2 separate regions of the Homo sapiens genome follow, and region 1 is linked to region 2. The links come from fine-mapping of genetic effects on plasma protein levels. A gene starts in region 2. The other region holds a variant in brackets. All regions are shown on one strand. Distances are between the middles of the regions. Region 1 overlaps ADAM23 (ADAM metallopeptidase domain 23). Region 2 holds the start of ADAM23 (ADAM metallopeptidase domain 23).

Region 1 (5,384 bases), 90 kb before region 2:
GCTACTCGGGAGGCTGAGACAGGAGAATCTCTTGAACCCAGGAAATAGAGGTTGCAGTGAGCTAAGATTGCACCACTGCACTCCAGCCTGAACAACAGAGTGAGACACTGTCTCAAAAAAAAAAGTTGTGTATATCTAAAATATACAACATGATATTTTGATATACATAGTGAAATTATTACTATAGTCAATCAAATTAACATGTCTTATTTCTACCTCACAGTTACGTTTTAAGCGTGTGGCGTGACCACCTAAAATCTACTCTCTTAGCAAATTCCCATCATACAATATGACTGACCATAGCCCTTATGCTATCCATTCCATCTTTAGACTTAGAGCCTATATAACTGCAACTTTGTACCATCTGACCTACATCTCTCCAACCCACCACCCCACTCCCACCCCTCCACCTCCTGCCCCTGGTAACCACTGTTCTATAAGGTTGGTGCAAAAGTATTTGTGGTTTTTGACATTACTTTCAATGGCGAACACCGCAATTGCTTTTGCACCAACATAAATACATATTCGACTTTTTTAGATTCTACACATAAGTGAGGTCACAGAATATTTTTCTTTCTGTGTCTGGCTTATTTCAACACACACACACACACAAACACACACGCAATGGAATAGCATTCGGCCTTAAAGAAGGAGATCCTGGCATTTGCCAAATATGGGTAGACCTAAAGGACATTATGCTATACAGTAAAACCATATTTGTTTAATGAATGAACAGGAATGGCTTATTCATGAGCATATGTGACAAGACCAATCCTAAAGGATTCTTGTTTGATGAAGAGGGTGGGTAAATAAACTCTTATTCCCCACCTGGGTTTTTTATTGTTGTTGTTATTTAGATATAATTCAGAAATCATAAAGTTTACCTTTTTAAGTATAAAATTCAGTGTTTTTCTTCGCATATTCACAGAGTTGTATAACTATCCCCACTATGTAGTTCCAGAATAGTCTCATCACCTCAGAAAAAAGTCCTGTAACCATTAGCAATCAGTTTCCATTTCTCCTCCCCTCCACTCCACCAGGCCCTGGCAATCATGAACCTACTTTCAGTTCCTATGAATTTGCCTATTCTGGACATGTCAAATAAACAGAATCGTATCATATGTGCCCCTTCGTGTATGGCTTATTTTACTTAGCATAATGTTTACAAGATTTATCTTTTGGTGTAGTATGTATCAGTGCTTCATTTCTTTTATGACTGAATAGTAATTCCACTATGTGGATATGCCATATTTCCCTTATTCCTTCAACAATTGAAGGACATTTAGGGTGTTTCCACCTTTTGGCTACTATGAATAATGTTATGAACATTTATGTACAAGTTTCTTTGTGGACATATGTATTTAATTCACTTGAGTATATGCCTAGGAGTAGAACTGCTGGGTGATATGGTAACTCTTTGTTGAACTTTTTGAGGAACTGCCAAACTGTTCTGCCAAGCAGCCACACAACATTTTACATTCCCACAAGCTGTGTATGAGGGTTCCAATCTCTCCACAATCTCGACAGCACTTGTTATTGTCCATCATTTTCATTATAGCCATCCTCATAGGTATGAATTGGTGCCCACCCAAGTTTAAAACTAAATGAGAGAGTGACATAGAATTGAAACATCAAAATGTCACCTTCATTTATTATAGAGCTATACTGGAGGAGAGGATTAGTTGAGAATCTAATAGGCCTGCTAATGCTGCACCCAGGAGTAGCTAGCCTTACCCACCCAGGCAGAGACAATGTGGGACAACCTAACCCCAGCCACATACACACATGTGGGTGGCCACAGTACAATTCAGAGAAGAGAAAGGTGGAGAGAATGTACTCTTCTTGTAGGAAGGTAGATCCTACAAAAAAAAAAGAAAAAAAAAGGGAGGGAGGAACTGGCTGCACAGACATACTTTCCCAGCAGTCAAGCCGCTCTTCCTTCCCTGAGCAAGAATGAGCAACGGAATAGGAAGAAGCCAGGGTGAGGAAATAGACCTAGGAAAAGAAGCCTTCCCCACCTAATAATGATAGTAATAAGGTAGAGGGAAGTTGGGATGGAGGCACTTCATCTATTTATTCATCATGACTGCTGACGTAAGCAGAAGAGAAATCAAAGTATTAGTAAGCACTTACAAATATGTATTAGCAGCTCACCAAAAAAGACTTAATAGAAATATGTTAATTTTGAAAAGTACTTTCATAGTGTTTTGTTGATGCTTATTATTTTATAAGAACTGAAATGCTAAAAATTAACTTATTTAAATAGGCTCATCAGCAAAGTTGGTCAACAAATATATAGTACTTGAAACATGCTAAGAGGGTGGATCTTAAATGTTCTCACTACAAAAAAAAAAAAGATAACTATGTGAGGTGATGGGTGTGTTCATTAGCTTGAGTGTGGTGACCATTTCACAATGTACCAACATATCAACCTGATGTTTTGAATAATACATACAATTCCTATATATACAATTTAAGTTACATACCTTAAATATATGTAATTTCTATTTTTCAATTATATCTCATTAAAACTAGGGACGAAAAAGGAAACTAGTCACAAAGGCCCACCTATTATATTATTTCATTTATGTCCAGAATAGGCAAATCTATTGAGATAGAAAGTATTAATAGATTAGTGGTTACCTATGGTTGGTAAAAGAGAGACTGGGGAGCAACTGTTAACAGGTGGTGTGGTTTCTTTATGCAGTGATGAAAATATTCTAAAATTAGATTATGTTGATGGATGCACAATTCTGTAGATATACTAAAAACAATTATATGCTTTATGATACATAAGTTATATCCCAATAAATTTGTTTAAATAAGAAAAGTAAATAAATTACTTTTTAAAGTTGTAAAAAAATCAACAAAATAGTTTTATTATATATTATGTGCAAAGCACTGGTAGGAACTTAAACAAAAGCTATTGCTCCATCAAGTGCAGAACAAAAGTTCTTCCTTATTCTTGGACTGATACCTAGCATTCATATTACACGCTTCTTTT[G/T]GACCTCTCGAGCTCCTATATTTGCTTCACATGGAAAGAAGCACTTTTAACCCATGTCCATGCAATAAAAGTAAAAGCCAAGACATTAATCTTTTCTTAGTGAGAAGTAAGAATGAGAGAGGGGCTTGTTAGTGGTGAAATGGGAAAACCTAGACAACCCTCTTTGCAAAGTATGGTTGCAACTAATTCCTGGGATGCTGTCAATATCCACATTCACATTTAACTTCATAGCCAAATAGACTGTTCTTTAGTTACGTGGAAAATATTGTGTGTCTACATGTGTGTGTACAATGTGTGCATGTACTTTTCTCTAAACAATTTGAGATCTTTGAGCCGGGCACGGTGGCTCACGCCTATAATCCCAGCACTTTGGGAGGCTGAGGCGGGTGGATCACGAGGTCAGCAGTTCGAGACCAGCCTGACCAACATGGTGAAACCCCGTCTCTACTAAAAATACAAAAAAAATTATTTGGGCATGGTGGCAGGTGCCTGTAATCCCAGCGACTTGGGAGACTGAGGCAGGAGAATCGCTTGAAACCAGAAGGTGGAGGTTGCAGTGAGCCGAGATTGCACCACTGCACTCTAGCCTGGGCAGTAAAAGCAAAACTCCATCTCAAAAAAATAAAAATAAAAAAAACAATTTGAGATCTTTAGGGGAAAAAAGGCTGCATTATGTGAAAATAAGTTTAACCTAGCCATTCTTACATATTAATTTCCTTTTCTGGTACTCTGTACAAAGATTTTCTGAAGCAGCATAAAAGACAATCTTCATGAAGTTTATTTACAAATGCTTTAAAAATATATATATATATGTAATGGTGGTGGGAATATGAATTTATACAAACTTTCAGAAATAAAAATTGTTAATATATATGAAGAGTGTTAAAAAATTGTACCAACTCTTTGACCCAGAAAATTCCTTTCTCAGAATTAATTCTGAAGCAATTATAAGGGATGTATTCAAAACGTATCTGGAAGGCCTTCCCTTGAAGTTATTCGGATAGTGAAAGATTGGAAAGAGTCAAAATGTCTATCACCATGGCATTTTTAAACATATTATAACAAATGAATTAGAAATAATATTATGAAATTTTTAAAAATTAAAGGTTTAGAAGATTACTTAATATATGCTAAAATATTTAAAATTTTGCTACATTTAAAAAATCTTGATATAAAATAGTGTGCACCATATCATCTTGGGTTTTTCTGATGTACATAAATACAGACACATAAAAAACAGACTGTTAGTTCATTATCTATGAAGCACGTAAGTTTGGGTATATGAGCTGTTTGAAGAAAATGGGTCATGAAAGAGAGAAAAGCAGTGAACACAAAAACAAACTGCAGTGAACACAATTTCTTTTGCTAGAGTTGAAATACCTTTTAAGTTTTAGTTACAACTGATATCAGATTTGGAGTGTCTTATTAATGATAAGGTCTCCTTTTGGGACCTCAAATGACCTCTGGAGGCCAATTAGCTATTCTGTTTCTTTAAAAAAAAAAAAAAAGTAACTAAGTGCCTTAGTGAGAAGTCTGGATCAGGTTTCTGTGTCCTGCAAATGTGGCTCGTTTGCTGAGTCTATAAAGTTCCCTGCAATCTTGTCTACTCCAGGCTCATGATTCAGCATCTGCAGTGCTCAGGGCCCTGGCACAGCTGACAGAAGCTTCAGTTTGTACAAATGCCAGGAAGCTTGTTCCCGCGCTTGATTTAGCTTTTCTGCTCACTTTCCACAGCACTAACTTTTAGGGAGACTCAACAACCCCCAAATGCAACCTAAGGCAAGAACTGACAACTAATAAGAATGATACATGAAAGTTCTTAATCTGTGGCACAAAACTCAAAGGCTGGAAAACACGTCCAATTACAAATTGAAATGTTATAAATCCTGAGACATGCCAGGGCCTCCTGAGCAGTATTTATAATGAAGGACACCTATAAACATTTGCTGAGAAGCCATCAGATTGAAAATCCCAGTTACCTATATGGCACAAGTCCACATACGGGAAAGGTGCTACTTTTATGCTGACATGTGTTAGCAATCTAGGAAAAAGACAAACAAAAATCCAGTGAGGTTTCCCCACTTTGTTTCCTTTCTGGTGTCCCCAGTAACTGGGACACTGCTCAGGTTCAGTGGCACTTGTTGATTCCCTAGAAGTCAGAGTTTCTTTCTGTAGCCATTCTGGGGATCTTCACCCTGACTGACGGAGGTCACTGTTTCTTACATACAAATCATCTCTCTCTCTCTCTTGCTTTAATCCAAATCCACTTGCTCTTTATTAATCCTCCCTGAAGACAAGAAAGTTCATCTCCAAATGAAGGAATCAGATACCCAAGTACCCTCATATTCAATGTCCCGTGGCCTTAAGCAGGCTTATTTGC
Region 2 (5,384 bases):
TCACCCCATTAAGTTATATAGGAGCTTATGGAGAAAAGGGCTGGCTGAGAACAGAGACACATTTATCTCACGGTGGGTAGCAGCCACTTCAAAATAATGTGAAAGAAAGTTCACCTCTCCAGTAATATTCAAGGTGAAGAAAGCACTTTCTCAGAGACCTAACTTGTAAAAAATAGTAAAAATTAAACATTCAGGTCACCTGAATTTTATATTAGCTGCTTTACAACATAGGAAAATCACCCAAAAGCCTTAAATTTCTAGCTCCCCATTTGTAAAATGGGGATAAATACTGTTACCACTCACCTATATTTTAGAAAACTAATAAAAAACAATGATGTAAACTGCAGATACTTTCTTAAATTCTAGATGTTTAGACAGTTAATTGCTAACTGTTGTTCTCACCTGAACAAGTACAGATCAAAATGAAACATTTAACATACAGACTCTATTTTCTGCTCCCGATAAACAACAGAAGAACCGATAATCCATTGTTTAAATCTGCTCGGGGTTCAAAATAATATTAATTCAAGTAAAGAATAGTAACACAGGGAAAAAGATCCCTTAAACTCTTTGGATATTAAACATTTGTCTTCTACTGATACCTTGGTAAATATCAGTTCCACTTTCTGAACTAACCTGAAAGTAAAGCAACTGCTCATAATCAATGCAGAGTAGGTACTGAAGAATTATGCCAATCAAAATTGGTCTTCATATTATGCAAATAATTTGTGTCTAGTCACCATAATCTTTTTAAATGTCAAATTGTTTACCTATTGAAAATACAACAGAAAATTTTTTTTTCCTCCTACTGATCAATTAAAGAAACAGACTGTTTAAACACTCAATTTCTAAGTGGAAAGACTGATGGAGACACTGCAGCCAAATAGCTTCTTGAAGCAATCTTGCATGTGCAGATTGAAAGCAGTTTTTATATCATGGGAGACAGTTTTATATCAAGGCAGAATACTGCACCCTTACATAAAGCCTCACAGAAACAAGTTAGAATCATAAACACATTCACTTAACTACTGTTCAGTGCCCAATGTACCTGAAAGATACATGGATATCATTTCAGGTATCAGAAAATTCTAGTTCCAGTTTAGTCAGAGAAGAGAAACAACAGTCTTATCCCAGTAGATCCCAAGTTAATTCCTTCCAGTTTCTCCCCTATCATAATATTAATTGCTTTCTTAATAAAATGCTGCAGTAAAATTTGTGAACTCAGATTCTGGCAGAAAATCAAATCAAAGGAAAACTCTTCATGATAGTTACTTTTGCATAGCCAGCCTCCTGCCTACCTTATTATGTTTTTGCTGGTGTCTTGCCTTTGTGTCAAGAACGTGATAAGGGCTTTCCGAGTCTTGGTTGATGTAATATATGAGTCTTGAAGGCAGTGTGATTTCTTTCTGCATTGCATTGCTGTAACTGATATTACTGCTGCTATTCTGTTGCAATGTATTGTCTTCATCTGCCAGGACTCCCAAATTTTTTTCTGCAGTTTCATTCCAATGCGGAGCTGGTGGAGGTAGGGGGGTGGGGGAGCAGAAAATACAAACATACACAAACACACACATATTTACCCCATAAATACATAAGCACTAAAATGCATTTTTCCTTTAATTTCAAACACAAAGTTTTCTATTTATAAGCAGTTAAGAAGTAGAGCTAGAGTAAAGCAAGTTATTTCAACAATAAAATGGCCTGGAGAAGTTAATAAATAGCCAATAAGGCTTATACAACTGTGCACTATTTATTTTGATTTATGTCTTATATATACATTTCTAGTCAGACTCAAATCTATACTTCTAAGTGTTGGGGGGGGGGTAGAATGAACTTGAGGGAAGAAGAGTCATTAAATGAACATGTTCAGGGGTCCTGCCCCCGATCTCCACCCCTTCTCTGAGTCCACAGAAGCACAACTCTACTCTGCCTAGTGGCATCCCATCCAAGAGCTAAGAACGCTCCTAAGATAACTTGAGTACTGAATTTATGGATACCGAATATTAATCGACTCTTTTAACAAAATGGACAATTCCCTTCTCTTTTAACTTTAAGATGAGCAAACATACTTTGCCATGTAGGGATACAGATGCTGGCAGCTTCCCAATTTCTTTTTATTTTCCTGACAAAGCCAGCTTTCTGCTTTCAGTGACTTCCAATCATCAATATATAGAAGATGGTATTATATTAATTGTTCATTATAATGACAAGCACTTTGAGAAATCAGAACCAAAGGTCGTGCATGAAGTATGTCTTCAGCACCTTAATTCTTTGGTCCCCGAAGTGTGCCTCCCCCACCTTAATTCCAACCGCACTGAATGCGCCGGATACGAAATTTGAGGAAACAGCCCATTACCACTATTATCACTACATCCTCCCCGCATTCACATTAAGGTTCCACCACGCAAGTAGCAACTTGCTCCCTCGCTGTATTTCCCATCCACTGGTTGCCCCTCCGCAAGTTGCACAGAGATCGCTGAGGGACCCAGGATCCACTAAACACCTCCCAGTGGAACCAACAAGAATTGGAATGGGTTTTTCGCGAATGCAACAGAAATGGACTTCCAAAAGTGAACTGGGATGAATGGGGGTTTGGGAACGAGAAGGGTGGAAAGACAGGCAGGGAGGGAAGGAAAGGCCGAGCCGGGGACAAGCCCGGAGCACACGGACCCGCGCGCCCTTCGCTTTCCTCTGCAGGGCCCCGCGGGAAAGCCAACGCAAAGGGCACGGGGCCATACCCACCGCTGGGCGCAGCAGCCCCCCAGGCGCGGGGCCGGGACGAGGCGGCGAGCGGAGGCAGCAGGAGAAGGACGAGAAGCAGGCGGCAGGGCGGCGTGCGGGCCGGGGCGCTGGCAGGCACCGAGCCGGCGGGGCCGCGTTGGGGGCCGCAGGAAGCGCCGGCAAGGCTGCAGCCCGCCAGGGGCGGCTGCCGCGAGCTGCTGCCGGGCGGCTTCATGGCTCATAGCTCCCGGGCGCCGCTCCGTGTGGCCGGCGAGAGCGCCGGGCTAGCTGCGGGGCGGCCGCGGGCGGAGCCGGTCACGCCGGCTCGGCGCGCATGGTGCCGCGGCGGGCAGGGGGCTCCGGGCTCGGGGCACGGGGCGCGGGGCTCGGGGCTGGGCGGCGCCCCCTTTCCCGGCTCGCCTAGCCTCGCAGCCACTCCCGGGGCGGGACGCAGAGGAGTCCAGGGGTCCTCGCCGCTCCGCCAACTTGGAGCCTCCCCAGCGGCTACTCCCTCCCCCGGCGGGCGCGGCCGCTTCAGCGACTGCGGGGGCTGCCGCCGGGCCTGAGGATGCTGAGGCGGCGCGCGGGAGCGAGCGGCGCGGGGACGCGCGGGAGCGAGCGGCGCGGGGACGCGCGGAGCGGGCGTGCGCCCCGCCCCCCGAGAGCGCGCCCGAGCGGGGCTTCGGGTGCTGATGCTGTTGCTGGATGCTGTGCTGCTGCTGTTGCCTGGCCCGGAACGCACTGCGCATGCTTTGTTGGGGGGCGGGGAAGGGGGTAAAGCAGCAGAGTGATGCAGCAGCCCAAGCAGCATCGGAGGTGACGGGTGGTACCTCAAAAGATGGGGGCGGTGGAGGGGGAGCCGGCAGTCACGGATAAGCCAGAAGAAAGAGAGTACGGGGGTTTCCAGGCCAGAGACAGGGATGATCGGGAGAAAACAACCAGCCGAAGTCCACCTGCCTTTTCCACCACCCCAGACTTCACATACCCTCTCCTATTCCAACCTCTTCCTGCTCTGGATAAACTAAGGCCACGCATCTCCTTCTTAATCCCTTATATATTTGCTTCCTGCATGTAAATATAAAGGATTGCAGCCGGGGAGGTAAAAATAGCGCGGCTCCTCATTCAGATTGCCAGCAGCGGGTGGGACTGCGGCTGAGAAGAGCGTTTGCGCCGCAGGCTGGCGCGGAGTGGCAGGAATCCCCCGCGCAGGGGCGCTCTGCCCCGGCCTGTGTCCTCCCTGCCGGTGCCTGGGGTCTTTGAGGAAAGCACAAGAAGCCGGACGGTGTTTGCTCAAAAGTTCAGAAAGTATGACTGGGCATATTCGGGAAGGACTTCGACATTCTGGCGGGGAAGCAATACAGAGATTAGAAACCAAGTGTGTGGCAGCTATCTTGGGAAATCCGTTGTTTGTCAACCACGGGGATGGGCACACATTTAGGAGGACACATTTCTATTTTTGAGATCCAGTCCTGACTTCTGCAGAGGAAAGGGGAAGTTTTCTCTCGTTGCTGTAAAAAATGTAAATCCCTGACTTCGGTGGGTTCGCAGCCACTAAATCTGATGGCTTCAGATAAGAGTCTGTGGCATATTTCTGCCCCCAAACTCTCATAATGCAAGCATTCATTTATTCACCCTCCCAATGACAATCTGAGTGATAACAATGTTGTCTTACTCCGACATCCACGGGGTGAGGGCTGGGGTGGAGAATTCCATGATTAAAAGAAAGAATGTGGGTATAAAAGTGCCATGGCCATGACAGAACTCAGTGTTAGCCATCATCTTCTCCACTCACACTTAACAAAGAGAAAAGAAGAAGACATATACGCGCGCGCACACACACATTACAAAACTGTTAGGTAAATACTGAGATAACTTCCTTTCTATGTTGAGCTAGGATATTATTATCACATATTTATTCCTGTAAATTTGTAATTGTTGCTACCTCCCCCATGTGAGGGCAACAACAGTTTTCCCTTCTGCACACCATTGTGTCCCTAGGACCTCACACAGTGTCTGAGGCACAGAGAAATCGCTTGGAAAATATGTACTAAATGAATAAAGAAATGGGTGATACACACAAGCAGAAGTCACACTTGGGGCAGGCTAGTGAACACTCTAGCCCCACCGGAGTGCCCACTGCAGGTCAATGTTCTTAGGGTTGTCTCCCTCAAGTCAAGTATTCTCTGGCTAGGTTTTCCAAATTTATATTTGACACAATATGCATCCTGAAAAAGGGCCTGAGAGAAAGCAAGCCAGAAAGGAGATGTACAAGCAATGAGAAGGGAGAGGGAAATGAAAGGTGCAAAGCACCCAGATGCAAGTTACTTGAAAGGCATCTCTTGCAATTCAGTGACAACCTCTTAAAGTCTGTTCTGATAAATAAACCTATCAGCCAACCTGGACTGACCAAACCCACCCACCAGTTACAACACATCATTTCATGCACTTGGGGTATGGAATGAGGATTCAATATAGTTTCTTTTTTTCTTTTTTTTTTTTTTTTTTTGAGATGGTGTCTTGCTGTGTCACCCAGGCTGGAATGCAGTAGTGCGATCTCAGCTCACTGCAACCTCTGCCTCCCAGGTTCAAGCGATTCTCCTGCCTCAGCCTCCCAAGTAGCTGGGATTAGCTGGGATTACAGGCACGTGCCACTACACCCGGCT

The links. PIP is the posterior inclusion probability: the model's chance that the variant is causal. Protein levels are from the aptamer-based SomaScan assay of Sun 2018.
Region 1: its variant is fine-mapped to the plasma level of the ADAM23 protein (Sun 2018, PIP 0.95).

The regions. Positions count from the first base shown.
Region 1 is chr2:206,531,454-206,536,837 of GRCh38, reverse strand. All of the region lies in intron 4 of ADAM23 (ADAM metallopeptidase domain 23), which reads right to left. Among named protein-coding and RNA genes, the nearest start is that of ADAM23, 91 kb to the right of the region's middle. The variant G/T (reference allele first, on the strand shown) is at 3,005.
Region 2 is chr2:206,441,439-206,446,822 of GRCh38, reverse strand. ADAM23 (ADAM metallopeptidase domain 23) reads right to left here and starts at 3,291. Exons shown (of 26, transcript NM_003812.4): 1 at 2,743-3,291; 2 at 1,299-1,516. The coding sequence starts at 2,956. RefSeq lists a silencer at 2,717-2,846.